Linked DNA regions of Homo sapiens: region 2 is linked to region 1. Evidence: fine-mapped expression QTL. Tissue or cell type: fibroblasts. Region 1 holds a variant in brackets; the other region holds the start of a gene. All regions are shown on one strand. Distances are from middle to middle.

Region 1 (16,255 bases):
TAATAGAATACTCAGCTGAACGTAGGCATGTATCAGCTTATTTTGTGTGTGCTCAAATTCATATTCTAGAGGTTTTACTTAATACTCCAACTTGTAATATAGTCTTATTTATATTATTAAAATTGTTCATAAGGGTAAGCAGTAGATGTAGTAGTTAAAATCATGAGCTTAAAAAAAAACAAACCAGGGTCTCGCTTTGTCACCAAGACTGAGTGCAGTGATGCAATCATCAATCATAGTTCACTGCAGCCTCAAACTCCTGAGCTCAAGCGCTCCTCCTGCCTCAGCACCCCAAAATGCTGGGATTACAGCTGGGATTACCAAACCCAGCAAAATCTTAAACTTTAAAGTCCAGGGAGCAAATACAGTATCTGCTACTTCCTGGTTGTGTGACCCCCTTAGGGGTTTCTGAATTTCTCCGAGCCTCTATCTCCATATAGTACATATTTCACAGGGTTATCATGAGAGCTGAATAAGGTAACCAATGTCAACCGATTAACAGAGTGCTTGGTTCATAAGTGCCCCTACATAACAGGTGCTATGATGCTGCTTATTTCATTCTTCTCATAATTAAGTGATTGAATCAAATTTTAAAATACCATTTCTTAAAGTCCCCCAAAGAGCACCATGATGTCCAAGTACTCTGACACTTGAGCAAGTTTGAGAATGACTTCCCAAATATAGCCCACTCTGTGCCTAAGTCCAAGACATTACAACTTAAAAGAAAATTGGACAAAAAATGGACCTTTGCATAAGCAAAAAACATGAAGAAGAGCCTCCGGGGAGGAAGACCATGCAAGGAAAGATACTGCTGAAGGAAAAATCCACATCCAAATGTCAGAGGGCTACAAAGTACAGGATCTTCAGGGAGAGTAAATATCACTGCCTTACACCTGGGATTCCATGACCATGCTAACCTTGCAGAAAAGAGAAAATCACAAGTCAGTGTTTTTCTGGGTCCATCCCCTTGCACTCTCTAGGAGTTTCACTCTCCATTCCCTACCCACACATTCCCCTAATCTCCTAGGTTCCCCCTCTCCCAGAAAAAAAAAAAAAAAACTTCTGGAAAATCAAAAAGGTGTTTCACAAGTTCTCTGGGGTCTGGCACTCATGTCTCCCATTTCTCTTCTTTTTATTCTAGAACTTCCCTAGGGGTGCATATTGTCATGGTCAACAGCCATCAAAACCAAGACCTCTACAGGTGCCTGCCAGAGGTACAACTGGTGGCCTGTAGTGTCCACGCATAGGTCGTCAGTGCCCAATAAGGAAGGTGCTGTTTTTCTTTCTTTCTTTTTAACTTTTAAGTTCAGGGGTACATGTGCAGGTTTGTTACATAGGTAAACTTGTGTCATGGGGGTTTGTTGTACAGATTATTTCATCACCTAGGTATTAAGCCTAGTACCCATTAGTTATTTTTCCTGATCCTCTCCCTCCTCTCACCCTCTAACCTTCAAAAGTCTGCAGCGTGTGTTGTTCCCCTCTGTGTGTTCATGTGTTCTCATCATTTAGCTCCCACTTATAAGTGAGAACATGTGGTATTTGGTTTTCTGTTGGTGTTATCTTTCAATACTGGAGATAGTGAGGCAGGAAAGCAGGGTCTGGAGGCAGGGAACATAAGGTTGATTCACACTTCAGCTATGACAGAAAATGTCCTCTCCATAGTAAATGATAACTTTACTTCATCCTCTTCATTTACATAGGGTGTACAACAAGTAGAGGGTATTTAAACTCAAAAAAACTCTGTAACAGTGCCCTTGAGCCCCTATGCTGGGGTCCACTCCCACACTGTGGAGTGTACTTTCATTTTCAATAAATCCCATGATTCCTTCCTTCCTTGCTTTGTGCGTTTTGTCCAATTCTTTGTTCAAGAGCCCAAGAACCTGGACACCCTCCACCAGTGACAATAGCAGTGGTACAATCAATCTCCTAAGGTGCTGCCAAAGGTGTTGGCACTGACGTTGCTGAAATGTTAGAATGAAGTTCTTTTTTTTTTTTTTTTTTTTTTTTTTTAAGACGGAGCCTCGCTCTGTTGCCCAGGCTGGAGTGCAGTGGGGTGATCTTCGCTCACGGCAACCTCCGCCTCCCAGGTTCAAGCCATTCTCCTGCCTCAGCCTCCTAAGTAGCTGGGATTACGGGTGCGTGCCACCACTCCCGGCTAATTTTTGTATTTTTAGTAGAGACGGGGGTTTCACCATGTTGGCCAGGCTGGTCTCCAACTCCTGACCTCGTGATCAGCTCACCTCAGCCCCCCAAAGTGCTGGGATTACAGGCGTGAGCCATCGCGCCCAGCTAGAATGAAGTTCTTTTCATCTTCACTTGTTTTATTAGTGATTCTTTGCTGTAAGATTCAGGCTTGGATTCAAGGGGGGCTGGGCCAGATGATACCTGTGGCATGCACTCTGGTGGGTTAATAATGTAGCCAAGCTCCTTACACAGGCTCAACTGCCTTTGAGTCAAGTTATACGACACTCTTAAGTTTAAACAATTTATTTCCCAGGAGGCTTCTTGGTGTTTATGCCTTATCAAACATCCTGATTGGCCCAGACAGTTGTGAATGATTTTTAGAGTAAAAATGACTTAATTTCATGATGGGGTTCTCTGTTTTGCTAGGATGGTCAGAAGACAGGAAAAGGGACAAGAAATTGAAGTTCACTGGACAGTTCAGTTTGTCAGGCATTTGCTGAGCACCCACTGTGTGCTTCACAACAATCTTGCAAAGCTGCCATTATTATACTTGTTTTGCTGGTAAAGAAACTGGTGCTCAATTGGTTAAAGTAATGAGATCAACATCATACAGACAGTAAATGACACAGTTAAAATTTGAAACCAGGTTTTCCCACTTCAATTGTCTCTACCTGGGGTAATATTCTGTGCTTTTATCACAAGGAATAGTTATATTTGGCGCTAGGGGATTAGGGTTAAAGGTAAATGATTAGGGTTAAATGTAAATGTAAATGATTCTTCAGCTAGGATTGGTATGCATTTGCATGTTTATTTTTCTGGGGAGAAGACCCATAGCTTTTATCATATCAAATATAATTAGGGCCGGGCGCGATGGCTCACACTTGTAATCCCAGCACTTTGGGAGGCCAAGGCGAGCGGATGACCTGAGGTCAGGAGTTTGAGACCAACCTGGCCAAAATGGCGAAACCCCATCTCTACTAAAAAAAAAAAAAAAAAATACAAAAACTAGCCTGGCATGGTGGTGGGCGCCTGTAATCCCAGCTATTTGGGAGGCTGAGGCAGGAGAATCGCTTGAACCTGGGAGGTGGAGTTTGCAGTGAGCCGAGATGGCGCCCCTGCACTCCAGCCTGGGCAACAGAACAAGACTCCGTCTCAAAAAAAAAAAAAAAATAGGAATCACTGATATATTTACTGTCAGATGGACTTAGATTTACATTCCACCTCAGACATTGATCACCTGTGTGATTTTGGCCAGTTAGTTAAGCTCTTGGAACCTCATTTTTCTCATTAGTAAAATGGTGTACATGAGACCATCTCCTAGAATGTCATTCCCTAATTGTGTGAACCTACTTGTTATTTTAGATCTCTCAGAGGTTTTTCCTAGCTTCTGTTCTCTCTCTAGCCCCTTAAATCAGTTTATCAGGCATTTGTGACTACTGCTTATATTCTCAGACTGCATTTGTGCCTGGACCTTCTCACCAGCAGGTGGATGGTTGAAGAAACTGTGGTACATTCATACAAGGAAATACTACCTAGTGACAAAAAGGAACTATTTATCCATGTGACTTTGTACATAGATCTCAAGAGCCTTAGGCTGAGTGAAAAAAAAAAAAAAAGTCACTCAAAAAGCTACATAATGGCCAGGCACAGTGCCTCACGCCTGTAATCCCAGCACTTTGGGAGGCAGAGGTAGGCCCATCGCTTGAGCCCAGGAGCTCAAGGCCAGCCTGGACAGCATAACAAAACCCCGTTTCTACAAAAAATATAAAAATTAGCTGGGTGTGGTGGTGCATGCCTATAGTTCCAGCTACTCAGGAGGCAGAGGTGGGAGGATCACCGAAGCCCAGGAGGTCGAGACTGGTGAGCCAAGCTATGATCATGCACTGTACTCCAGCCTGGGTGACAGAGTGAGACCTTATCTCAAAAAAAAAAAAAAAAAAAAAAAAAGCTAAAGACTATATGATTCTATTTATATGACATTCCGGAAAAAACGAAACTACAGGGACAGAAATCAGATCGGATGTTACCAAAGGCTGGAATAGAGGCATTGATACAAAGTGTGTGAAATGCAGAATTTTTGACCCTATGACCTTTACTACTGTTGTTATGCCCATGAATACATTATGTTACATGGCAAAATAGACTTTGGACATGTAATTAAAGTTACTAATCAGTTGACCTTAAAATAGCAATATCATCCTGGATTATCCAGGTGGGCCCAGTGGAATCACATGACCTTTTAAAAGCAGAAGTCAGAGAGGTCTGAAGTACAAGAAGGATTCAACTCACTGCTGACTTGAAGGTGGAGAAGGCCAAGTGTCCAGAAAATGGGGACCTCAGTCCTAGAGCTGCAGGGAACAGAATCTGGCCAACAGCCTGAACGAGCTTCTAAGCAGATTTTACTCAGAGCCTCCAGAAAGGAACTCAGCCTATGCAACACTTTGATTTCAGTTTTGCGAGATCCTTAGCAGAGAGCCCCACCATACTGTCCTAACTTCTGACATACGGGAGTGTGCTACAGTAAAATGGGTGCTGCTTTCAACCACTAAGTTTGTGGTAACTTATTATTCCAGTAACAGAAAACTAACACAAAAGGGCATGAAGGAATTTTTTTGATAGTAGAAATACTCTGTATCTTTATTATGATGATGGTTATACAACTGAATAAGTTCGTTAAAATTCTTTGACCCATACATTTTAAAAGACTAAAGTTTACTTTATGCAAATCATACCTCAATAACCCTAAAAAAGGTAAAACTCATCAAATTGCACTTTAAATGGGTAAATGGGTAAATCTTATTGTTTGTAAACTATACTACAAATAAAATGGATTTAAAAAGAAACAACAGGCCAGTACAGTGGCTCATGCTTGTAACCTCAGCAATTTGGGAGGCCTAGGTGGGAGAATAACTTTTTTTTTTTTTTTGAGACTGAGTCTCACTCTATCACCCAGGCTGGAGTCCAGTGATGGAATCTTGGCTCACTGCAACCTCTGCCTCCTGGGTTCAAGCAATTCTTGAGCCTCAGCCTCCCGAGTAGCTGGGATTACAGGCGTGCACCACCACACCGGCTAATTTTTGTATTTTTGGTAGAGACGGATTTCACCATGGTGGCCAGGCTAGTCTCGAACTCCTGACCTCAGGTGACTCAACCGCCAAGGCTTCCCAAAGTGCTGGGATTACAGGTGTGAGCCACCATGCCTGGCCTGTTGGAGGATTACTTAAAGCCAGGAGTTGACAAGAATGAGCAACAAAGTGAGACCCCCATATCTACTAAAAAAATAAAAAAAATTAGCTGGGCATAGTGGTGCCTGTCATCCCAGTTACTTAGGGGGCTGAGGCAGGAGGATCACTTAAGCCCAGGAGTTTGAGTCTGCAGTGAGCCATGATTGTGTCACTGAACTCCAGCCTAGGCAACAGAGTGAGACCCTGTACATACATACATACATACATACATACATACGAATTAAAAGAAACAACAAAATTCTAGTTCAAGAGTGATCTATTAGAGTTTTCCCTTGCTCCCGTTTTCCCCCAGTAGAGATAATCAACCATGCATTTTTTCCTACTATGACTGTACTTTATTATTTACTTCTATTTTTCTCCCAAGACTATATTGTTATTTTGAATTATATGTGTGTTGCTAGTAGACTCCCTGAGCAGCGGGACCATGTCTTCATCTCTGGATCATGAGTGCCTAAAATACAGTAGGTGCTATATCATTTTTATTTGATTTGCATGATTGTACATGAATATATCTAAAACTTTCTAAATGTGTCTTTCAAAATTTTTCTGGCTGGATCTCTTCCCAGTGGTAATAAATTGTATATATTTATTACTGCATAAAGCATTGCTATTTTAAAATTCAAAACCACTTCCTTAAACGTCAAGGGAATCACAACCAATTTTTAGTATTCTTGAATATAGTGAAATTGCTCATGTGTACATCACCTCTTACACTTCATTTGTAGATTTTTATGGCATATCCCTTTTAGATCATTTTTTTTCTAAAAAGGAATCCAGCTTGAAATGCTATTTCAACAATACAGATGGTCCCTGACTTATGATTGTTTGACACAGGATTTTTCAACTGTACGATGGTGCAAAAGAGATACACAGACAATAGAAACTGTACTTTGAGTACCCATACAACCATTTTATCTTTCATTTTCAATACAGTATTCAATAAATTACATGAGATATTAAACAGTTTATGATAAAATAGGGTTTGTGTTACATCAGCCCAAATATGCTGATGTAAGTGTTCTGGGCACATTTAAGGTTGGCTAGGCCAAGCTAGGATATTCAGTAAGTTAGGTGTATTACATGAATTTTCAACTCACAATATTTTTAACTTATGACAGGTTTATCAGGATGTAACCCCATCAAAAGTCGAGGAGCATCTGTTTATATTTCCATTTATATCATAAATATTTACACTTTTATTTGTCAATTATACCTTAATAAAGCTGGGGGGAAATATATATGTCCATCACAGGTAGGATTGCCAAGTAAAATACATTATGCCCCATTAAATTTGAATTTCAGATAAACAACAAACAATTTTTAGTATAAGTGTGTTCTGTGCAATATTTAACTGAGCATCCTTTGTTGGGAGGGTGGCTGACTCTGGCAATCCTAGTCGAATGGTACACATGACCAAGTTTAAGGCTAAATCAGGAAGAGATTGAAGCATCCTTCTTTAGATTGTGGTTAAGAGTGGTGAAAATAAGTTTTGATTAAACAGTAAAATGACACCAAGTAGAAACGGGTGTTATTTATTAAGCAAGACATTGTTTTGTGTAGCAGATGCCTCATGAAAACACTCTAGCTCAGCTAGATGCTTTTTGTTAGAGACCTGGAAAAGTAGGATTGTTGCCTTGTATTACAAGGGCATTTTAAAGTTGTGTTCTATAAATTATAAAACTTGTCTGGGCCCACATTCTACCTCAACATCTGCCTACCCCAGGCTTCCTACCTCTTCAGGACGGGTGAGATGCCTCTAGTCCTTAGATAGCAAATTCTTGTCACACCTGGTGCCATTCTCCCAACCAAGGCAAATCATCCCAGCTTACAGTACAATTTATCTACTGAGCCTGAAAACAGCCTCAGAGTCTTTCTTAGCACTGTGTGTTTTTTTAAAACAGCTATTATTAATTCATTAGAATTTGCACCAAAAATTAAACCTGTTTAGCATCACTAGTCTCACAGCTGCCATGTTATTCACTGCACAAGGGCACCTGAATTAGAGAATAAAATGGGGCAATACCCAACTCATGCTCTGTACATCATGGTCTGGGGCTGCATTCCAAGAGTCTTTTTCTAAATCACATAAGGCACAGACTAGTATCAGCTCTGTCTGTTCTAGGGGAATAAGCAGGGGGTTACTTGGTATAATTGGTGAAATTGATAAGGGAGAGAATATTCCGAAGAAAGAGAGATGAGTTGAAGCATCTATAGTTGAAGAATGGCTTGAACCTTGGCTTCTGAGCATGCTCAACAGTACATGCCCTTCAGTTGGAGAAACTTCAATATAACGTTAAACCAGCAGGGCATGGTGGCTCACGTCTGTAATCCCAGCACTTTGGGAGGCCAAAGCAGGTGGATTGCTTGAGGCCAGGAGTTCTACATCAGCCTGGGCAACATGACGAAACCCCATCTCTACAAAAGAATATAAAAAATTACTCGGTCATTGTGGTGCATGCCTGTCATCCCAGCTACCCCGGAGGCTGTGGTGGGAAAATCACCTGAACCCGGGAAGTTGAAGCTGCAATGAGTCATGATTGTGCCACTGCACTGCAGCCTGGGCGACAGAGTGAGACCTAATCTCCAAATATATATATATATATATATATACACACACACACACACACACACGCACACACACACACATATGTGTGTGTGCGTGTGTGTGTGTATAAAACATTAGACCAAAAGCAGTTTTCTATTTAATGATTCATTTTTGTTGTTTGTTTAGTTATGTTCTGTATTAAAGAAATACATACATGACATCCTGATTTTCCACAATAGAGAAATTAAGTGATAAATGATTCATAGATCTATAGTTCCCCAGGTGATTCTGATGTACACAACTTAGTTGAGGCCCAGGTAGCCTAAAGAGTATGACAATTGGCCTGGGGGGAGAATCAAACTAGAACCCGTATGAACATAAATAAGACTGTTCACCTGCCCCTTACCTGTAGGTAAGGGCATCCTGACATTCACCACTCTGTAATGAGAAGCTCCTGGTAAATGGGGATGTGTGGGACTGAAGAAATTGTCAGAAATTCAAGAAATTGAGTTAGAGAAAATAGAATAGCCAAACTACAGCCCAAGGATGAGGCCACTGGAGATAAAACTGTTTAGGACATATGCTCTGGCAAGATACCAGTAACAAAATCTGGCAGCCACACAGCTCTCTGATGACGCTTACCTTTAGCC[A/G]GTTTTAATATGAAGAGTTATCATTTTATATATAGCTTATATCCCGCCTTGCTTTCCGTCCCCTTCACCGTTTCAGTTGCTCGTCTCAGGGTCTTCTCCAACTCTATTATTCCTGTCTTGTACATAGACCAGAACTACAAAAAAGAGCCCGGATGCAGACACCTCAAGGATTTACAAAAAAAAAAAAAAAAAATAGAATGACTGCTTACTGGTTTTTCCTCCAATTTTTCTTAATGATGTTCAACATTTTCCTGATTATTTTGACCGAAACAATACTTGGGCAGCTGTCTTCAGGAGAGAGTCTATAAAGGACCCTTGGCACCCTTTCCAGGGATGACAACTCAGAACTTGTCATTTTAACATATGCTTGAAGAAATCAAGAAGTAAGGAGATTTTAGGGGTGGAAATATAGATGTGATTTGAAAAGCCAATATGAATAGAGATAAGTTGTTGGGATGGGCTTGTATGGTAGGAAAAAAAAAAGAGTAGAGGCCAGGCGCAATGGCTCACACCTGTAATCCCAGCACTTTGGGAGTCTGATGCAGGGGGATTTCTTGAGCCCAGGAGTTCAAGACAAGCCTGGACAACATAATAAAACCCCCTCTAAAACTAGCTGGGCATGGTGGCACTTGCCTGTAGTCCGACATATTTAGTAGGCTGAGGCAGGAGGATCGCTTGAGACAAAGAAATTTGATGTTATGGTGAGCTATGGTTGTGCCATTGCACTCCAGCCTGGGCAACAGAAAGAGACCCTGTCTCAAAAAAAAAAAAAAAAAAAAGCAATGGGTAAAGATGTATAACTGCCTGGGGAGTAATTCTGTCTAGCTAGAATATAATGTGAATAAAGTCATGATGGATGCTGGGGTTATAAATGTGGGTTGGGACCAATGTACTCATGTACTTTCTCTTCAAAGATAATTTGTGAAAATGATAATTTAGACCAATCTCAAGGCTAATTTTAAGAAGATTCTGCCATTAACAGTTAAAATATCTCTAAAATGGCATAATAGAATCTGTTCTATTTTCCTCACCAGAATACTGTGATTACCAGATGGCACAAGGGGTATGGAAGACCTTGGGTAATTGACAAGTTGTCAATTACAATTACAGAGTGGTCATATTGCCTGCAAAATTCCCCATCAGCTCCTCCCACTCATCTCTAAGCTCTTACATTACATGTCCTGCAATGCTATGTGGACTGTAATCAAAACTTTTTGGTTTAAAAACTTTCAAAGGTGGTTTTTTTTTTTTAAATTTAAAGTTCTTTTGTCTGAGGCTCCCACTTTTGTATCTACTTTCTACTTATCCCAAACTCTAGTATAGCATGATTTTCTGTTATGGAAATCAAGCAGGTTCTCTCCATTAAGTTCTGTGCTTCTGTGTTTTCATAATCCTAATGTTTACTCTCCATTTAACCAGATTACTCAATGTATCATGAGACTATCTGGAGTCTGTAGTTTCCAGAAGCCTCTCTGGAGGATTTGTCTTGCATTTATTCTGAAGAATGCTCTGCCAGAAATAAAAAGTTGACAGACAGCAGATTTTTAAGAGTATTGGAAGGCATAAAAATATAATGGCTAAGAGAGGAGTTGGATTGCTTCAATCTATAATCCTGGCTTTATCTCTTTCCTCTCTATAATACAGGGTCGTTTCAACTGTTGAGTTAGGTAACATATGGAAACTGCTTAGCACCAGGCATGATGTATACGGAGTGCTTAATTAGTGTTACCTATTATCATCATTGTCAACACTATATAAATAACAAAGTTGACATTTGATTTGTAAGTATTCTATATGAATATGTATGCAAAAGCATTTCAATCTAATAAGCAACCACAAGGCTAATCTTCATCTCATATGTGTAGTCAAAGTACATAGATTCATGGTTTATGCCTCAGATAATTGAAAACCCACCACTTTCATTTAGGTGGCTGTTTGGAGAAAATATGTCACATTTGCATAATGCTTTATGATTAAAAAGAACCTTTTAAGCATATTTGCACTTAAGCCTTATAATAAATTATTAGAAAGATGACTGGACTTTTCCAATACTACACAATAATTGTGCAATAAAACTGATATTAGAACCTAAGTCTTGATCCTTGTATCATGAAAGGCTTCTTTATTATTTGTTAAGATCCCCTGGACCATCTTGACATCACAAAACAAGTATATGTTAGAAAAGTTTTTATTTTAAGAAAAATATCCAAAAGTTTGCAGCCAGACACAGTGACTCACGTCTATAATCCCAGCACTTTGGGACGTTGAGATGGGAGGATTCATTGAGCCTAGGAGTTCAAGACCAGCCTAGGCAACACGGTGGAAACCCCATCACTATGAAAAAAGAAAAACATTTTAATTAAATAAAATAAAAATAAATAAAAGTTTGTATGGCAAATTTATAAAGAAATTTATAAGACCCAAGGTGACCAACGGAATAGGCATAATAGAATGCCCATTCCCCTCAAAGCCTGAAAAAAATGTAGGACTTTCTTTATGACTGCCCAGATTGTAAATTTCATCATGTTTCAGGCTCTCAGACCTCAATGGTCAGAGATACTCAAGGGGAATTTTATTTAAGACTATTAAATGTAAAAAGTAGCTACAGATGGAGTACTTCTATAATTCTACTTCATCCTTGGTGAAAGATATTTTCATTCCATGCTGAGAACTGTTCTTTTTCCATCACTCAGATTACTTTATGAGCCATTTGCTTTGCCAGTAACTACTTTTTTTCCTCTTTTAATGGAATGAAATGGACAAGGTTAAGGCTCATTATCAAATTGGAATGCAGAAGCAACATTTACCATACTTCAAATTTGCCACTGTAGAAACTGTAAAAAATATATGTATATTCTTTGTATAACATTATGTATGTTAATAATATCAAAAAATAATAAAATAAAATCCCCAGAATTTTCTGCTTTCTCAAATAAATTCATTAAGTGTAAAGAACTGGTTTTTAAGATCTTCTGATTTAGACATTCAAAGTATTGAAAGGGTAGATTCCAGATTGATAACCATAAGGGTCTTTAAAGTGGCATTTTTAGGCAGGGCGTGGTGGCTCATGCCTGTAATCCCAGCATGTTGGGAGGACAAGGCGGGTGGATCTCCTAAGCTCAGGAGTTTGAGACCAACCTGGGCAACATGGAGAAACCCCGTTTCTACCAAAAATACAAAATGAGCAACATGGAGAAGTCCCATTTCTACCAAAAATACAAAAAAAAAAAAAATAGCCTGCCATGGTCACGTGCCTGTGGTCCCAGCTACTCAAGAGGCTGAGGTGGGACAATCGCTTGAGCAACAGGGAATATATATATATATATTCTTTTTTACAGTTTCCGCAGTGGCAAATTTGAAACACACACACACACACACACACACACACACACACACACACACATAAGTTTGTTACCCACTGAAAAACTCTGAAGAGACCTTGATGCATTCAAAGCTATGAAGTTTAGTGAAATATTTAAACTCGCTAAAAACAAGCAATTGAAGCAAGATAGATCATGTTTCTTAATATTTTAATTGTCCAAAAGGTTTTGAATTCTCAGAATGTAGAGTTATTCTATCTGTACATGAATACAAAATCAGTTACCAGTCATTACATAATAAATATATTTTATTTTTATTTCAATCCTCCTTCTTCTGTAACAAACTAAATATCAACAAATTTTAGGCTGGGCATGGTGGCTCACATCTGTAATCCCAGCACTTTGGGAGGCTGAGGCAGGCGGATCACCTGAGGTCAGGAGTTCAAGACCAGCCTGGCCAACACGGTAAAACCCCATCTCTACTGAAAATACAAAAATTATCCAGGCTTGGTGGTGGGTGCCTGTGGTCTCAGCTACTCAGGAGGCTGAGGTACAAGAATCACTTGAACCCGGGAGGTGGAGGTTGTAGTGAGCCAAGATCATGCCACTGCACCCCAGTCTGGGTGAGAGAGGGAGACTCTGTCTCAGAAAAAAGAAAAGAAAAGAAAACAAAACAAAACAAAACAAATTTTATTTCTGGATATGAGTAGGTGAATAGATCACACTGATAGAGAGAATGGGGAAAAAGGAATGATAACTGTGTAGCACAGCATCTATTCTAAGGTTCATATTCTATATGGAACAGGGCATACTACATCACTTTTTGTTATTTTCAAAAAATATAAAGGTACTCAAAGTTCAAGATTAATGATTTTATACTATAACACCTCAATGCACTAAAGAAACAATTACAGAGAAATCAATATAACATTATTGGTAAGACATGCACACTGACAACTTGGCTATCTGCTTGATTGAGTATAAAAGTGTGGTGTATGTGCCTTCAAAACAGGGCCTAGATGTTTAGCATAAGAATAAAACTGCAGATACTTTTTTAAAATGCTACTTTATTTATTTATTTATTGAGATGGAATCTCACTCTGTCACCCAGGCTGGAGTGCAGTGGTGCAATCTCAACTCACTGTAACCTCTGCCTCCCCAGCTCAAGCGATCCTTCCACCTCAGCCTCTTGAGTAGCTGGGACCACAGGCATGCAACCATGCCTGGCTTTTTTTTGTTGTTGCTGTTGTTGTTTTTGTATTTTTGGCAGAAACGAGGTTTCTCCATGCTGCCCAGGCTGGTCTCAAACTCCCGAGTTTAGGAGATCCACCCGCCTTGGCCTCCCAACATGCTGGGATTACAGGCATGAGCCACCACGCCCTGCCTAAAAATGCCACTTTAAAGACCCTTATGGTTATCAATCTGGAATCTACCCTTTCAATACTTTGAATGTCTAAATCAGAAGATCTTAAAAACTAGTTCTTTCTTTACACTTAATGAGCTTATTTGGGAAAGCAGAAAATTCTGGGGATTTTATTTTATTATTTTTTGATATTATTAACATACATTGTAGATAGATCTACAATGCCAATTTATAACTAAGGCAATTATCTGAGTCAGACCAAAATATCCACTCTTACCTGCATTTATGAAGTGTTTTGCTCTGCTCTTCAATGCTCAAGTTGCAGCACTGAAGTGGTGTCTCAAGTGATAATAAAATTGATGTTAAACTCTCTATATATCTTAAATAATAAGTCTTAGAAGCGGAACAGGAGTGATCCTCTGTTAACCACCTACTTTACTAAATGAGGAAACTCAAGCCGAGAGAGGTGAAGTGGCTTGCTGCATATCGTGAAACTAAATGTTGGCACAGCTGGAGCACAACTAGGTCTCCAGTTTTACGGTCTAGTGTACTTCTGACTTCAAGAGACTGACTCAGGCCGGGCGTGATGGTTCATGCCTGTAATCCCAGCACTTTGGGAGGCTGATGTAGGAGAATCACTTGAGCCCAGGAGTTCGAGTTCAGCCTGGGCAACATGGCAACACCCTGTCTTTATCAAAAAAAAAAAAAAAAAAAAAAAAGAAAGAAAGAAAGAAAAAATAAGAGACTGCCACAAGTTTTAATTGGTTGCGCCCAAAAGTATAAGATAAATTAATCAGGCAGTACATCTCCATGCATACCAACCATACGGGAGTTCATTCTCAGCAAGGCTGAAAAAAAAAAAGTATATAAAGATTTCTGTTTAATGGAACTTTCTTGCTTTTAAAATGATAACAGAAGTGGCTGGGCGTGGTGGCTCATGCCTGGAATCCCAGCACTTTCAGAGGCCGAGGTGGGTGGATCACTTGAAGCCAGGAGTTCAAGACCAGCCTGGACAACATGGTGAAACTCCGTCTCTACTAAAAATACAAAAATTAGCTGGGTGTGGTGGGGTACGCCTGTAGTCCCAGTTACTCAGGAGGCTGAGACAAGAGAGTCGCTTGAACCCAGGAGGCAGAGGTTGCAGTAAGCCAAGATAGCACCACTGCACTCCAGACTGGACGACAGACTTATTATATCTGGTAGATTTTTTTGTAGATTCTTCTCTGTAGAAGATCATGTTATGTGTGAATAAGGAGAGCCTTAACTGCTTTCCTTCCAGTCTGGATGCCTTTTATTTCTTGCCTTATTACACTGAGTAGAACTTCTAGTATGATGTCGAATAGAATTGGTGAGAGCAAACCTCCTCATCTTGTTCCTGATCTTAAGAGCAACCCTTTCACTTTTTTCCCCTTTATTGATACATAATATTTGACATATTTATGGGGAAATTGTGAGTGCTTCTTACATGCATAAAATGTGTAATGATCAAGTCAGGGTACGTGAGGTATCCATCACCTTGAGTATTTATCATTTCTATGAGTTGGTAACATTTCATGTCCTCTTTTCTATCGAAAAGCATTCACTTTTTTAAACCATTAATGTGATATAGGCTACAAAGATTTCATGGACAACTTTGGCCAAATTGAGAAAGTTTCTTTCAATTTCTAGTATCCTGAGATACTAGACATGACATCTTTTAAAACTTTTGTAGGTTTTTGAAGGTTAAACAAAAGATGAAATAATCATCATAAACAGAAGGACATCAATGTTTTTCCATTAAAAAGATTCCTGAGAGGGCAGATGTTATATATGAAAGAGCCTAAATAGAGTTCTTTTTATGAGACAGGGTCTTCCTCTGTTGCCCAAGGTGAAGGGCAATGGTGCAATCACTGCTCACCACAACCTTGACCTGCTGGGCTCAAGTGATCCTCCCACCTTAGCCTCCCACCTTGCCTCCCAAGTAGCTGACACCACAGGCGTGCATCATCATGCCTTTTATTTTATTTCATTTTTGTAGAAACAAAGTCTTAATATATTGCCTAGGCTTGTCTTGAACTCCTGGCCTCAAGCAATCCTCCTGCTTTAGCCTCACAAAGTCCTGGGATTATAGGTGTGAGCCACCGCACCCGGCCTAAATAGAGTTCTTATGCATTTCTAGAGACAGTTCAGGCACTTATTGTTGCATGTCCTTCTGCAAATGACTTCAAAAGAAGAGGGTGTAAAAATCATATTTTTAATAAAAAAGTTGAAGAAAGTACAAGAAATGTTTCAAAAGCAATAATTTTTAAAATATAATGATTTTAAAAGTGATTTCAACATCACATATGTCTGCCATAATGGAATTATAACCTTAATAGGAAGATGTCTCAAGTTTTGTAAAAAGGTTTTCTTATGACACAATAAAGCAAATACTAAAAATCAGTAATATTTCCTACAAGTTTTGGTTGCATACCTGGGTGTGGTGGCATGTGTCTGTAGTCTCAGCTATGCTGGAGGCTGAGGTGGGAGGATCACTTGAGCCCAGGAATTTGAGGCTGCAGTAAGCTATGATCATGCCACTGCACTCCAGCCTGGGCAACAGAGCAAGACCATGTCTGGAAAAAAAAAGTGTGAAGAAGATGTATTTTTTTTGTTGTTGAAACGAGGTCTCACTCTGTTGCCCAGGCCAGTCTTGAATTCCTGGTCTCAAGCGATCCTCCCACCTCAGCCTCCCAAAGTGCTGGGATTACAGGCATGAGCCATGATGCCCAGCCTGAATTATGAACTTTTCGTGCATTTGTGAACCCTCTGATGGACGCATGAATTGAATGTTCATTGAAATGATCAGAACAGGTAAAGCATCTGATTTATATATTTTGGGAAGTGAGAGTCTTTAATTACAGGAAAAGTCCACATGAGGTCTACATACTTATTTTTCAAATTGATGTGACTCAGTGCCATAGACTCCC
Region 2 (16,255 bases), 43 kb after region 1:
CTTTGGGAGATGGGTGGATCACTTGATATCAGGAGTTTGAGACCAGCCTGGCCAACATGGTGAAACCCAGTCTCTACTAAAATACAAAAATTAGCCGGGTGTGGTGGCGCACCTGTAATCCCATCTACTCAGGAGGCCCGAGAGTCGCTTGCACCCAGGAGTCGGAAGGTTGCAGTGAGCCAAGACTGCATCATTGCACTCCAGTCTGGGTAACAGAGCGAGACTCCGTCTTAAAAAAAATTAAATTAAAAAATTAAAAAAAAAAACCAGACAAACAAAATTACTGTAACTAAAAGCAAGACCTTCTGTAACTTGGCAGTTTAATTAATGTAAGACAAGAAAGATTCACAAGTCTTTTCTTTTATTTTCCTTCCCTCCTTCCCTCTCTCCCTCCCTCTCTCCTTCTCTTTCTCTCTCTCTCTTTCTCTCTCTTTTTTTTTTATTATTATGCTTTAAGTTCTAGTGTACATGCACACAACGTGCAGGTTTGTTACATATCTATACATGTGCCATGTTGGTGTGCTGCTCCCATTAACTCTACATTTACGTTAGGTATATCTCCTAATGCTATCCCTCCCTCCTCCCCCAACCCCAGGACAGGCCCCGGTGTGTGATGTTCCCCTCTCTCTTTTCTTTTCTTTCTTTCCTTTCTTCCTTTTGCTTCCCTCTTTCCCTCCCTCCCTCCCTCCCTCCCTCCCTCCCTTTCTTTCTTCCTTCCTTCCTCCTTTCCTTCCTTCCTTCTTTTCTTTCCTTCTTTCAACAGGGTCTTACTCTGCTTTCCGGGCTGGAGTTCAGTGGTGATATCATAGCTCACTGCAGCCTCAACCTCCCAGCCTCAAGTGATCCTCCAACTTCAGCCTCCCAAGTAGCTGGAACTACAGGCATGTACCACGACCATGTCCAGCTAATTTTTGTATTTTTTGTAGAGACTGGGTTTTGCGATGTTGCCCAGGCTGGTCTCAAATTCCTGGGCTCAAGTGATCTACCCACCTCGGCTTCCGAAAGTGCTGGGATTACAGGCATGAGCCCAGCCCACAAGTCTTTTTAATCACTAAAGTAAGTGTTAAAAAAATATATTTTCTCTTTTAAAAAGATTACGTTAGTGAGATCCCAAGCAATCTTCCTTCCCATTGATGTTATCACTGCACCTTTGTGGTAGGCAAATCCTCAGTTTTTCTTTTGCAGATAAGGAAGTAGAAGCCTGGAAAGAAAGCCCAAACTCAGAAACTTACCTAAAGCGCTCCCATTTTGCTTTCTTATGTTAAATTAAGTTTAGCCTGGTTGGGTGTGGTGGCTCAGGCCTCTAATCCCAGTAGTTTGGGAGGCCCAGGCAGGTGGATCACTTGAGCCCAGGCGTTCAAGTCCAGCCTGGACAACATGGCAAAACCGCGTCTCTACCACAAAAAAAAATTAGTTGGGTGTGGTGGCACGAGCCTGTAGTCCCAGCTGCTTGGGAGACTTGCGGTGTGAGAATCACCTGAGCCTGGGAAATTGAGGCTTCAGTGAGCCATGATCGTGCCACTGCACTCCAACCTGGGTGACAGAGCGAGACCCTGCCAAAAAAAAAAAACAGTATTTCCATACATAGTGAACTGTAACCTAAACAGATGTGTAAACACACTGTAACCCTCACTTGTAAAAATTACTGAGTTTTGGCCAATAAAAGCAGCCAATTGTTCAAATTGAGTTCAAATAAAGCAAATGCCAAGGTGTAACCAATCCAGCTATTGCTGTACCCCACTTCCATTTTCTGTATGTCACTTTTCTTTTTCTGTCCATAAATTCTCTATGAACATGTGGCAGCACCAGAGTCTCTCTGCACCTAGTCTGGTTTGGGGTGGCTGCCCCATCGTTCATTGCTCAATTAAACTATGTTAAATTTAATTTGTCTGAAGTTTTTCTTTTATCACTTCCTAGGAATGAAAATGGTTTTCATTTCTACTTGCCTATATCAAGTCTTACCCATCTTTGTCAAGCCTAGCTCAAGTTCCATTGCACAAAGGATGCCTTCTACAACTGCTTTAGCCCTATTATTCTCATTCTTTTCAGCCTACCTACGGTGCTTCTTATATATTCTATCTTGAATTGTTTTCTCATTATTACAGTTATGTGGACTTTGATCTTGAATTAATATTAGACTATTAATTCGTTGTGTTTTGAGACCATACTTTTTCTATGTTGCTTATAATAGTTATCTGATTGATTAATTAGATATTTAACACCCAGAAAGTCGGGAGAGGGGAGGGTGACACTTTAATTTTGAGCATTTCCAGTGATGATAGTGATCTTTGTTAAATCTACATATTATAAAGTCCATACTGATTAAATATGTCCTAATCCTATTAAAGAGACTTCAATTAATTTTTTGTTTTTTATTTTTTAATTTTCTTATTCTCAGATACTGATAATTTTTTTTTTAACAAGTGAAAATCTGAAATAAGCTTGGACATGTCAGAGTAATTTCTTTATGTGAATGTGCGTGTAAGATAGTTGGCCTGCATTAGCAGGCATTCACATTCATAATAATCTTTAGGTTTGAAAAATATTTGACAATTGCCTATTCACTATTAATATTCATGTCCTATACATGTGTACATTTTGAGTTGGAAACATAAAAACACTCCACTAATAAACAGTGGTAATAACTGTTCAAATCTGTATCCTATGGATCAAAAAAAAATTAATAATTGTCCAGGTCTTCCAAGATTTCCTCTATGCCAAATATTTTAAGTATGAGAGAAACCTTTAAAATCATACTTAATTTTAATAAAAATGTCATCTCACAGCACACTGAATAAAAAGAGGGATTAGGATCAATCCAAGAACCTAAAATATCACAACATGGAATAGAATTATCCATGAATTAAAAAGATGATTTAAAAAAGGATAATTCCTTGAAAATAATCTGATAAAATAAAATACAATTAATTAAAACAGATTAGTACACAATTTTACATTTAGAGACTGAGAAAACAATTAGGTGTGTTAGAAAAATGATTTAGTATTGAACTGATCAAGATTCTTTAAGTTATTCCTGGCTTATATAAAGTTTATGCAGCAAAATCATTTTTTAATAGACTACAGAAAGGAGGTTTTAAAAAAAATGATAAAAATTATCTCAGACGGGGTGAGGAAAAAGAAGAAAAAATAAAATAAAATAAAATAAAATAAAATAAAAAATGGATAAAAAGTTCAAGCCAGTGGTCAGGCACGGTGGCTCACCTCTGTAATCCCAGCACTTTGGGAGGCCAAGGCAGGTGGATCACCTGAGGTCAGGAGTTCGAGAGGAGCCTGGCCAACATGGTGAAACCCCATCTCTACTGAAAAAACAAAAATCGGCCGGGTGTGGTGGCAGGTGCCTATAATACCAGCTACTTGGGAGGCTGAGGCAGGAGAATCGCTTGAACCCGGGAGGCAGAGGTTGCAATGAGCTGAGACTGTGCCGTTGCACTACAGCTGAGGTGACAACAGTGAAACTCTGTCTCAAGGAAAAAAAAAAAAGTTCAAACCAGCAATGACATGTTAAGAATAAAGAATTAAAAATGGATAGAAGAGGAAACTGACAACTTACTCTAGGAAAATTTCAGGGAAAATTTTAGACTATGTACACATAATACATTGTGAGCTAGACTGGGGAGAGTGTTGGGCAGAACAATAGGAAAAAGAGCAAGAAAAAGGGGGATGTGCGTATCAAAAGGAGGAAAGAAAAGTAGTTTGGACAGACAAAAAACCTAAGAGAGATATTGGCGCCTTCTTATGATATCAGCGGAGGACAGGAAGAATAAATGGTTTTCAAAATTTTGTGATATTGACTTTAAGTGATTTATTACAAAGGCATTAGGATCGAAAATTGGAAATGGAAGGAAAGGTAAAAACTCTTAGGTTACTGATTCACAAGGTCTGTGAGAATCCTATATATATTAATAGCTTTTTGTTGCTGTTGTTTAACAAGAATAGACATAAAATAACCATTGGTTCAGCAAACATTTACTGAACTCCTATGTGTCAGGCACTATGCAAGTCACTGTCAAAATAAATTAAAGCCTATAAGCAGGTGGAGGGAACCCTGACAAACATCTGTGCAGGCTTTTTGATACAGATAAGAAAACAATCAACTTTGGGTTACTTCGTGAATGATCCTCTATGAGGTAAATTGATGGCATGAAAAATTATAAAGAAATGCTGTTTAAGAGCTTTGAGCCTGAGGATCCTTTCTTCCAGCAAAATGCTAAATTTGAAAAGATCCTTTAGATTCTGGGCAACACAAAGGTAGCTTAGTTACATCAAACTGGCTGGGTATCTTAATAGTATTCATTAAAATGGAGTTCTACCTGGATTATATAGTGGAGCTTGTTAAACAGGAATCTCAGCTAGCATCCAAATAGGTGCTTCTGTGTTTAGGGTGTGTTTTATCTGTTGGAAAGTTACTGAGGCAATGAGAACTAATGCCATCAGCTAGGTACACTGCAGCTTTGAAACTATGGACTATTGCATTTCAATTAAAATGACATTTCTTGACTGAATTCTGACATCCTCAGTGATAGTGGTGAATGAAGACTTTTATCAAAGTATAGATTCTATTAAGCTTTTAAAAAATTTTATTAATTTTTTTTGTAGAGATGAGGTCTTGCTATGTTGTCCAGGCTGGTCTTGAACTCCTGGCCTCATGCAATCCTCCCACTGCACAGCCTCCCAAAGTGCTGGATTACAGGCGTGAGCTACCCTACTCGGACCAATGTAAGCTTTTTTGAATTAAAAACAGGAACTGTAAATAGCATATACGTAGGATTCTTAATATTTTTACTTTAAATTCTAGAATTTGAAAAATAAACTAAAATTGAATACAACGTAATTGAGACAAATATATCTGCACTGGAAAATTTAGCTTACAGAGTCCCTTCATGCTATTGCTCAGTCTGTAATTTTAAGTTTAAGAGCAGGTGGAAGCTCTTCAGCGGTGACCGACAGACACCATAAAAGGTAGAAAACTGAAAAAGCCTATTTCCTGTATCTAAAAATTTTTTGTAAAGAATTCCAGAAGTCACACCAAACCTTTGGCCAATTACTGAATGCTAGAAATCTCATTTGGGAGCTTACTGTAAATGTGTGTGGCAATGCACTGGCTCCATGTTCAATCCAACGCCAACATGTTGAAATCAGTATTTTTGTGCTGGCCCAAACCTGAACCAGTAGAAAATCTCCCATAACAGAAATTCAATGTTTGTGAAAGCATGATTGCCCTCCCATTTCTTTTTCACCTTCCTGTGCCTTTCATAAGTTCTTCCAGTTGGTTAATCATTAATTAATATTTAACAAGGCTTTTTCCTCGTGCCAAGTCCTCTGCTAGTCTAGCCTTTAGGCAATATATGAACTCCCCAAGTTCTTCCCTTTTAAGAAGCCTTGGCACTCACTACGGATTAATTTCTCTAAGGAAATTCATAATGGCAGATGAAATAGGGGTTCCTTTTCAAGAACATTCCATTTTAAAGCCTCTCAGCATTTTTTCCTGGTACATGTAAAATGCGACTTAATTGAACTAATTTTAAATGTTGACAGAACTTTCCAAGCACACATTTCCTCAACAAAATGGTTACGACTGGAACAGGAAAGGGCTTAGACTTTTTCTTCTACAGCTATCCCACAAGTCAGTCTCTTGACCTGACCCTGCAAAATCCCTCAAACTCTGGCTCTCTGAGTTGATTTTGGATATACGATGAACCATAGGTTTGGAATGCAGATAACCTCCACGTGTATTAATGAAAGAGGTCAGCTATGACGTGGAAGCCATCTCCTGGGCAGAGAAGGAGAAGAAATGGCAGTCTGGGGAGTAGTAACATGTCTCCAAATTTTCTCTGGTGAAAGGAGACTGATGAGAATTGATACCCATTTCCGGTCAAAAGAGTGGAACCAATGTACTTCCAACCACCTCCTCTCAACCCCTCTCCGCATGGACAAACATACCAGACAGGTGATGTGGGCTAACAATTTACTTGGCATGAGGCCAAAGGCTTGAGGGCCCTGCCCTGCCCATATTCTTCTCCCTTGACTTCTTAAGGAAAGGAATGATTGCTGATGTTTCCCTCTGCACCCTTTGGCACCTGGACTGATTGTTGCAGATGTAATTAGGAATGTTCCCCAACATGCCGTTATTCTTCTCACGATTCTGGGAGAAACTGTACCCCTCCCCCATAGACTTATATAGGTGGCATTCAAATTCTTGTTCCCAACTTTTTCATCTTTTTATTAATCCCACAAGATTGTGTGAATGTGTACTCCGAGCCAGGCACGTTGGACTTCTAACTTCCTCTTAGCCCAAGTAGGAAGGGGAGACTCAGGCGCTGGGGACCATTCTCCTCTCCCTGCAGCAGAGTTGCAGTCCCTATCCCTCCTGGGTGCCCATCCCCGTGCCTATTTTCCTGGATCCCCACCCAGTTGATGTGACAGGCTCGTGGCCCAATCCCCTTCCTGGTTCCCAGGCCGACTGCTAGCACCACCCGAGCCAATGGCGGCGGCCGAGGGGCGGAGGGGGCTGGCAGGAGGGGAGGGAGCGCTGGCTTTAGAGCCACAGCTGCAAAGATTCCGAGGTGCAGAAGTTGTCTGAGTGGGTTGGTCGGCGGCAGTCGGGCCAGACCCAGGACTCTGCGACTTTACGTAAGTGCTTTGTAGGCGCCGGCGGGCACTAGGGGAGCGGGTTTCCTGGGCGTGGGCAGGAGTGGGTCCCGGGGAGAGCATCTCGGTTAAGCTCAGCAGGAACGTGCGGCGCACCGTGGGGCGGGGGTTGGGGGAGAGGGAGGTCGGAGAAATTTCAGTTGGAGCCCTCGGGCGCCCGGGCGATCGGTCGCAACCGAAATGGGTGTGAGTGACGGGGAGTTTCCCTACTAGCATCCGCCGCAGACACGTTTTCTGCACTTCACTGTATTAAGTGGTGTTTTCTTACTAGTTGCTCTTAACTTGTTGCCAGTCTTGGGCTGGAGTCCTAGACGCCAGCCCTTGCCCTGATTCCCCTCCGCGGCTGCGGCCCCGAAGTGGAAAGGGAGCGCACAACTTCCCTCTGTCGTCCTTCTCCAGCTACTGCCATCCCCTCTTCCCTCCCGCCCGGACTCAGGAAATCCCGGAGCCAGCAGCCTGCTACTCCTCCAGCCCCCACACGCCCGCCTCGGGTGACCTGGCTGGCTTAAGCCGACCCTGGGGCTCTGGAGAGGGGGGGCCGTGGCCGAGGGAAGGCACGAGGTTTGGGTTGCCTGCCTTCTGCCTGCTTCCCTCCCTTGTCCTTAGCGAGGGCGTCGCGAACGCACCTAGTCTCCCTATGAGTAAGCACTTTTTTTCCTTTCAGTAGGAGAACATCTCTGGGCTAGTAGGACAGTACCTTTCCGTTCTCCCCTGGCCCCACACCCCCTGTCCTTTTTTCAGCTCCTTTGACTTTGCGGCCCCGGGCGCGCGGTCGGGGCGGCGGCAGTCCCGGACCTCTCCCGACTCTTGGAGAGGGAGAGGCAAAGGGGCGACGGGAGGGAGGTAATAGTCTACCCCCCCGCCCTTTCCCCGCACAGCTGCACTTGCCTGTGTTTACTTTTCTCCACCCGCAGTACTTAAGCGCTGTAATGAGAGGCCCGGGGACGCCGACCACCCCCGCCCTGGCTTCTCGCCAGTCCCAAAGTTGCTGCCGCCGTCGCTGCTCCAGTGTGCTGGCGGTTCCGACCGCCGGGCTCCGGGACGTAAGATGATCCCAGCCCGGGAGGTGGAGTGGGGGTTAATGGCATCTGACTCTAGCCTTATGCGATGCTCCTTGCCTCTCACCTGAGCTGCACGATATCCCCAGTGGTGCAGAAGGTTGAACTTTTGCAGAAGGTTGAGCTTGGAGCTAAGTGGGTTGGAGAGCCTCGCCATTTAGCGTCAGACAGACGGGATGCTGGGGGCGCCCGGCCTGTTAAGAGGGATTGGGAGGAGGGAAGGGAGCCTGGCTAACAGTAGGTAGAAAATGTAGGGAAAAGTAAAAACCATTGAGGGGCAAGCACTTACTCCACTTTGCTGGATGTCACAATGGACTGGGGAGCCTAAACTTGATCCTCGAGATGCAGTTCATGGTGAATTCCAACTAAGTGGCTGGAGCCCCACACATACCAGTTGGAATCACGTGCCCCAAGTCTCTGATGGTCACATGACGTCTTTTTACTTTAAAGCTGGAATGTAATGGTTGAGGCCCATATTCCAAAAACCACCTCTACGTTTGAAAAAAAAAAAGGTGGGGAGGAGTGTGAACTAGCTTCTAATCAAGGAAGTCTACTAGGATTTTGGATGAGGGGACCAGAAAGGGAATTTGGTGCTCAGCTTTTATCCAAAACAAAAACAGGAGCTGTTTTTAAAATAAGGGATTGAAATATATGTGAGCTGGGACATGTATCTCCTCTCTTCTTCAATCTCATGGTTTTTCTAAATTTAAAAAACATCTTACTAATTATTTTCTAGGGAAGTCATCCTATTACTCATGCCTCATTTTGTCCCTGAATACTAGATTTGAAGCTAAATCCCACAAGATAGTGTTAAAAAGTAAGGCTCTGTTCATCTTCCTTGGTCTGGCCTATATTCTAATTGAACTGTTCCCTATTTTAGGCAACTACTTAAAGGTAGTAAATAACCTCTTGACTAAAATTAACCACCAGTTATTTGTGGTTTTCAATTAACTGGATTAGAAATCATGCACAAAAACAGTGGATAGTAAATTTGATACATCGAGTTGGTTGGGTTTTTGCCTGTCAGTGGTTTGGTAGAATAATGAGAGGACACTGAAACAACTTTCCCATATTGACCTATACCCGCCCAAGTGGCCCAAGTTAAGGTTGCTTCTGGGAAAACGTGGCAATTTGGCTATTCAGATTATATATTACAGAGTATAGAAGAGAGGCAGAGGAGCCTCTGAGGTCAGGAGTTTAAAAGCTTTGCTTATCTGAAAAAAAAAGAAAAAACGGACCTGGTTGATGCATATTCAGTCTTGAAAACAACTAGGGCAGAAGATATTTAAGAGATTCTGACTTTGTATTCTTTTGCCAAAAACCCTTTGTCTCCTGCAGCAGCCTCTGAATGACCGGAGCACTCCAGTTTCTTGCTGTTCATCCGTTTCTGAGCCTGAAAACTAGAACAACCTTAAAGCACATTGTTCTGACCCCAAGGCTAGCCTTGTGGCACAGATGAGCTGGAAATGGATTTAAGGTGCACCTGAGTTACTAGAGTTAACTACACTGGTAGATAGACCCCTCTAGTGGAAGTGAGGTGATAATATAATTTTAGATCGAAATAATAAATGTTTAACCTCAAAAAAAGGAAGTTATTACCACTCAACTAGGTTACAGTGGTAGGGGGATAAGTTCTTTTTTAAGTATTGTGAAATCATGTCTAAACAGAATCATCGCTAGGCTCTAGTCCACAGCTTTTCATTGTCTTGGGATGCCTACTCATTGAACACCACCCCCAATATTGCTGACTTTTTTTGGTGGTATGATCTAATGAGCCCAAATTTTTATTGAAATTAGGGGGCTGGGAGTCAAATTCTTGATTTTTACTGTTAGATCTAGCAGATAGCAACCCCTTTACCTGAGGTGGGGAGCTATTAATAAATAAATAACACTTTGCCTTGACTTAATACAGACGATCAACATTGAAGTCCAAAGTCTCTAGTCTGATGTAACCATTTAGATTCAATTGATAAAAATGACTAGGCTTATGGCATTTTGGGTAGAAGGATTAATTATAACTAGTGAGTAATAATTTGGGTGAGATTAAGCCTCTTCCACAAGTGGTTACACGCACATTAGACTTTGACTGTGACTGTTTATACTGGCAGAATGTCAGTATCTAGGGCACTATCAGAAACCCAATGAGATTTTTCTCCCAGGAGAACAGAATTCTGTTACTGAAAATAAAAGGGCAGCTTGGCCATGGTGCTTGAGCACCAAAGTGGTTCTTTTTGGTGACACTGAGAGGGTACAAGAAGAAAGTCCATTTGCCATTATCCCATATTCTGTTTTAGGCATTATTTCTACTTGGATTTTCATGAAATGTACTGACAGTGTTCTTAGCACATATGATAAATTCATGAGTTTGCTGTTGTGTTTGATCTAGCATAATCTATGTGGAATGTATAAGCTGAACTGTTTCTTTTTTGATGTTTGGTACAGATTATGAAAGTAGCTGGTATAAAATAAAATTTGAAAATGAATATCTCTCAATACATGACAACAATGGGGTATCTGTTTTTAGAATCATGTTGTCTTTGGTCATATGGCAATTTTTCTTTTGGTGAAGAGTGATCCAGAAGGCAAAATTTTTGATCTGTGAAAATAATACAACTCATTTAGAAGAAGTCAGCTGGGTCATGTTTTGAGTCTGTATTATTTTAGACAGTGATATACCATATAATGTATATTCAGTGTGTTGGAGGTTTCAAAGCTTTTTGGATACATTACAATGTTGGAAGATTTTTATATACCAGTGGTCATGACTAGCTGATTTTAGTTATGAGAGCGCTTTGGTTAAAGTTATGGAAACAGTCTAATCGTGAAATGTCAGTCTTAGAAGATCTGATCATACTTGGGCCAATTTATTTTAGTTACGGAGGTGAGACAATTTCAGAAGATTCACGATAAATTTAATAATACCAAATTTTGCCTTAGTCTTGACACTTGGAAGATAAATATTAGTGAGTATAAACTGTTTTAGGGATGAAGAAGTATTGTTAGTATACAAAAATGAAAATACTAATTATTTTAGCATGGGTCTTTTAGTCCTTTGCAGTCTGGACAGATAGATTATCTTAAGTAAATCATTGAACTTGCCCTCAGAGGAATTAGATTCTAGATAGTGCTCTGCCATTGACTCATAATTTGACCTTCGGAAAGTCATTTAAAATTATTATATTAATAACTAATTGAGTACATACATGTGCCAGACACCATTCATGCTTTTGTTTATAAAAAGAGAGGATTGCTCAAGCTTTTTGGTTTGCTGGGTTTTATTTTTTCAAATATTCATAATCTGGCTTATTTCACTTATCAGTTGACTTTTCAAACTTTGATGCAATTGCATTGATCCAAGCTAAATACTTTGTTGGCAAATTGATGACTATTCAGGAAAGTGATCACCAGTGGGTTATTCCATGACTAATGTTAGTTCTTTAAAATAAAGAGGTGCCATTTATTTAATTCCTTGACAGGGATTTTTGGTGCATTAAGCCTACTGATTTTATAATATGAGAAACCTTACATTTTCTTAAAAGTTTAGAAACGTATTTGATAATAAGGAGGTAGTGTTGTTTATTGGAAAAGCATTGAGCATAGAATTTAGGGTCTTTTAGTCCTTTGCAGTCTGGACAGATAGATGATCTTAAGTAACTCATTGAAATTTTCTGTGGTCATATCTGGGTTTCACTTTATTTTTAAGCCATGTGATTCCAATCTACATATTTCACAGGCATGGTAAAAGGATAAGTGAGAAACGTGAAGCCTTGGCTTTTAAGCAGACAGGTGCTATATAAATTCAAAGTACTGCAGCAGTGTATCATAGAAACACTAAAGCTTTAACAAGAGTTTACAGAAATGGCAGGGTTCTCATCACGTAAGTCTTGCCACATTTTTCTTTGTCTGTAAAAGTTCTGCACCCATCCAATTTTTACAAGCAAAGGAAAAATAAAGCCAGACATATTATAATGAAAAATAAGAGACTAGGTTGATAACAATAGAATAAAAACCTACATGTGATACTTTCTTCTTCTTCTTTTGTTTTGTTCTGTTTTGTTTTGTTTTAAAGACGGAGTCTTGCTTTGTCGCCCAGGCTGGAGTGGTGCAGCGGCCGTGATCTCGGCTCACTGCAAGCTCCTCCTCCCGGGTTCAGGCCATTCTCCTGCCTCAGCCTCCCGAGTAGCTGGGACTACAGGCGCCCGCCACTGTGCCCAGCTAGTTTTTTTGTATTTTTAGTAGAGACGGGGTTTCACCGTGGTCTCGATCTCCTGACCTCGTGATCCGCCCGCCTCGGCCTCCCAAAGTGCTGGGATTACAGGCGTGAGCCACCGCGCCCGGCCCGTTTTGTTTTGTTTTGTTTTGAGATGGAGTCTCGCTCTGTCGCCCAGGCTGGAATGCAATGGCGTGATCTCAGCCCACTGCAACCTCTGCCTCCGGGTTCAAGTGATTCTCGTGCCTCAGCCTCCTGAGTAGCTGGGATTACAGGCGCGTACCACCACGCCTGGCTAATTTTTGTATTTTTAGTAGAAATGGGGTTTCACCATGTTGGTCAGGCTGGTCTAGAATTCCTGACCTTGTGATCCGCCCGCCTTGGCCTCCCAGAGTGCTGGGATTACAGGCATGAGCCACCGCGCCCAGCCCATGTGATACTTTCTTCTATTTCTTACCTCAAATATTGTGCAAGGTAGCCCGTTAAAGCCATTAATTGGGTGGTGTTTTTCCCCTTTTTAACTAACTACTGAGTAGAATTTTGGTCTTCAGTGGTAATTGTTACAGAGTCCATTGGCTTACCATACCTCATTTTTAGTTTTGTGATTGCCCATAATGGGAGGTTTCGTGTAAAAAACCTCATAAAAAATCAAGTTTTTCCTCCTCATAATTGCAGTCTAAAGGAGGACAACACGCAGGTCTGGGAAACTGCATAGTGGAAGAGATAATCTATACATTTAAGTAGCATGCCATGAATAACACAAAAAATGGCCTGGCACGGTGGCTCACATCTGTCATCCCAACACTTTGGGAGGCCGAGGTGGGTGGATCACTTCAGGCCAGGAGACCAGCCTAGCCAACATGGTGAAACCCCGTCTCTACTAAAATACAAAAACTTAGCCAAGCACGGTGGCACGGGCTTGTAGTCCCAGCTACCCAAGAGGCTGAGGTGGGAGGATTGCTTGAGCCTGGGAGGCGGAGGTTACAGTGAGCCGAGATTGCGCCATTGCACTCCAAGCCTGGGCTACCGAGTGAGACCCCATCTCAAAAGAAAAACAGAAAAACAAACAAACAAACAAAAAAAAACAGAAAATGTGGGAAGTTAAGTTGAAAAATAAACACCTTCAAAGCTATTAACTTGGATTTTCTTTTCTTTTCTTCTTCTTTTTTTTTTTTTTTTTTTTGAGTCAGGTTCTCACTCTGTCGCCCATTCATACTCTGTCCAGTTCATTGAAAATACAAGTCTGATTCCCTTGAGTTGTGATATTCATACACACACGAGTATATATACACTTATGTGTGCATATGTATATTATATAAAGTTTTACGTGATATATAATATAAGTTTTTACTTTCTGTAAAATAAAATTTGTTAGGGCCGTATAATAGTTTTGAATATTCATATTATTGTGTTCCACATTATAAGCTCTAATTACATCGTGTTGCACTCAGATTGACATTCTGCTGTTGACACTGAAAATAACGCTTTCATTCATAGATGAATGTAATTTTCAAGCTTTTTTTCTATATTTCTTAACTTGCTTGAATGTTCCCATTTTTGCCATTTCTTGTTGTTCATTTTAACATTTTGGGGCTTGTGTTTCAGATCAGGAAGAATCACCATTATAGGGTGCAAAGAGTTTGCTCAGAGGTGAAAATGATACGAAATTGTCCCTAGAGCACATCCTATTGCTATACTATTCAACATGTATGAATTAATCTACTGGGAAAGTGTCTTGTGTAGTGTGTACTTTAAAGATGTTTTCAATCACTTTGCTTTGGATTAGAAAAATTCAAGGTAACTATAATTTTAAATGCTCATATTTTTATGTTTATTTTATATGTAGGAAGAGAAATTTTTAAAAATTGGAATAACACTATATCCCATTCTTTTCATTTATTACATTATAAACATGTTTCCAAGTGATCAAATATTTTTAAAAATGTTTAAAATCACTGCAGTATATTTTATATAATGGCTGTTTCATAATTTATTTCACTAATTCCAAGTTGTTGAACATTTGTTTCCATATCTTACAGATAATGCTTCAGTAAGCATTCTTGATCGAACATCATTTTGCACTCTATCATTTTTTAGAAGTCACCAAGAATGTTTTAAAGATGAATTCCTTTGATAGTCCCTGAAATTTAAACATTGGCTTAAACAAAAAGATAGCCTTGATTTCAGTGGCATTTAAAAAAAGAAGGCTGGGCATGGTGGCTCAGGCCTGTAATCCCAATACTTTGGAAGGCCAAGGCAGGCAGATCACTTGAGGTCAGGAGTTCAAGACCAGCCTGGCCAACATGGCAAAACTCCGTCTCTACTAAAAATACAAAAAAACTAGCTGAGCATGGTGGCGCACGCCTGTAATCCCAGCTACTTGGGAGGCTAAGGCAGGAGAATCGCTTGAACCCAGGAGGTGAAGGTTGCAGTGAGCCAAGATTGCACCACTGCACTCCAGCCCGGGCAACAGAGCACGACTCCGTTTCAAAAAAAAAAAAAAAAAAAGAAGAAGAAAAAAGAAAAGGCCATTCTTTATATAGTGTATTGTATCATATGTGACTCTAAACTGGAACTTGTTTAGGTAAAGTATATGTCTTGGAAGTATTTTGGTTTTCTCTGATCTAGTTAGCAGGTGCAGAGCAGGATGAGGTAGGATTCTGTGCTGTGTACAATCATAGGAAGTTCTGTTTTTTGAAACGGAACTGTTAATGGGGGAAGGGAGACACGTTTGTTTTTAAGAAGCCTTTATGTTTAATATTATTATAAAACTCAGTTCAAGTATACAAAGCTTATTTGTGCCTATGAACATTCAGTATCCTAAAGAAACATTTAATCCTGGTGTTGGCTAAATGACTATTTGCTGATATGCCCTTTTATCTCAAGGCTATTAGTTTCTTAAAGTACTTTGATATCACTCAATAAACTACAGTTAAACTCAGAGTTTTACATTTCATTCAGGTTGCTTAAATAATATAACTAAACATAGGTCCAATAATAGTAAAAATTCTGATGCTGTCACTTAATTTGTGCCTGGTTTCAGTATATGGCGATTGCTTAAATTACAAGCACTTGAATTTACAAATATTTTGTGTATTTAAATGGCTCATTGTACATTACATATCCCTCCTGAAACTTAACCCATGCCATTTCACAGACCCTTCCATGGTGTTTTTCTCTTTCCTCCAGTTCACTAGCCTCACTCACCAAAGACTTTATTGGTCTGGGAATTCTATTATGACCCAGAAGTGACTTGGAAGGTTCCTTTCACCCAACAACACATTCTCACTACCTTTCTTTTCTTTTCAGGGGCATCATTTACATGCTATGTTGCACAGTCAGAATGGATTTTAGCATAAAGTATGGGTTCCAATAGCTCTCGCATTTTATTATTTATTTATTTGTTTAGAGACAGAGCCTCACCTTGTCGCCCAGGCTGGAGTACAGTGGCACAATCTCGGCTCACTGCAACCTCCATCCCCCAGGTTCAAGCGATTCTCCTGCCTCAGCCTTGTGAGTAGCTGGGATTATAGGCTCCTGCCACTGTGCCCGGCTAATTTTTGTATTTTTAGTAGAGATGGGGTTTCACCGTCTTGGCCAGGCTGGTCTTGAACTCTTGACCTCGTGATCCACCTGCGTTGGCCTCCCAAAGTGCTGGGATTACAGGCATGAGCCACCGCGCCTGGGCCAGCTCTCCCATTTTATATCTCTGTGGCATTGAGGAGGTTTCTTAACTCTCTGAACCTCAGTTACCCCATGAATAAAATGAAGATAATACACTCACTTTTCACTTTGTTCTCATAATTATTATATGAGAACACTTATAAAGCAACTAGCATATGGTAGGTGCTCAATAAGTATTTTCATTTACAGGTTGATTAATGTTGCCTTAGATGATTTTTGTCAGGCATCTATATCTACCTCTTTTTCTCTAATTTGAGTACCTTCCTACCTTCCTTTTTTTTTTTTTTTTTTTGGACAGAGTCTTGCTTTGTCGCCCAGGCTGGAGTGCAACTGTGCGATCTCAGCTCACTGCAACCTTGACTTCCCGGGGCTCAAGCGATCTCCGTGCCTCAGCCTCCCGAGTAGCTGGGATTACAGGCGTGTACTACCATGCCTGGCTAACTTTTTTTTGTAGTTTGTTTTTTAGTAGAGATGGGATTTCCCCATGTTGCCCAGGCTGGCAAGATTTTAGAAATTAGTGGGGTTTTTTGTGTTTTATTTAATGGTATTGGAAAAACACTCCTTTTATTGTTTTTCATTGTGAATGTGAAGGATTCTAGCCATGTTTCAGGTTGAAGAAGCTTCTTCGCTTAGC

The links. PIP is the estimated chance that this variant, and not a neighbour inherited with it, causes the effect.
Region 2: it holds the start of PLS3-AS1, and the variant in region 1 is fine-mapped to the expression of PLS3-AS1 in fibroblasts (GTEx, PIP above 0.99).

Annotation. Positions count from the first base shown.
Region 1 is chrX:115,511,868-115,528,122 of GRCh38, forward strand. It overlaps PLS3-AS1 (PLS3 antisense RNA 1), which reads right to left. Exons shown (of 3, transcript NR_110384.1): 3 at 6,322-7,844. Among named protein-coding and RNA genes, the nearest start is that of PLS3, 41 kb to the right of the region's middle. The variant A/G (reference allele first, on the strand shown) is at 8,625.
Region 2 is chrX:115,554,610-115,570,864 of GRCh38, forward strand. PLS3-AS1 (PLS3 antisense RNA 1) reads right to left here and starts at 8,122. Exons shown (of 3, transcript NR_110384.1): 1 at 8,017-8,122; 2 at 7,795-7,921. PLS3 (plastin 3) reads left to right here and starts at 6,565. Exons shown (of 16, transcript NM_005032.7): 1 at 6,565-6,651. RefSeq lists enhancers at 7,339-8,114, 11,485-12,049.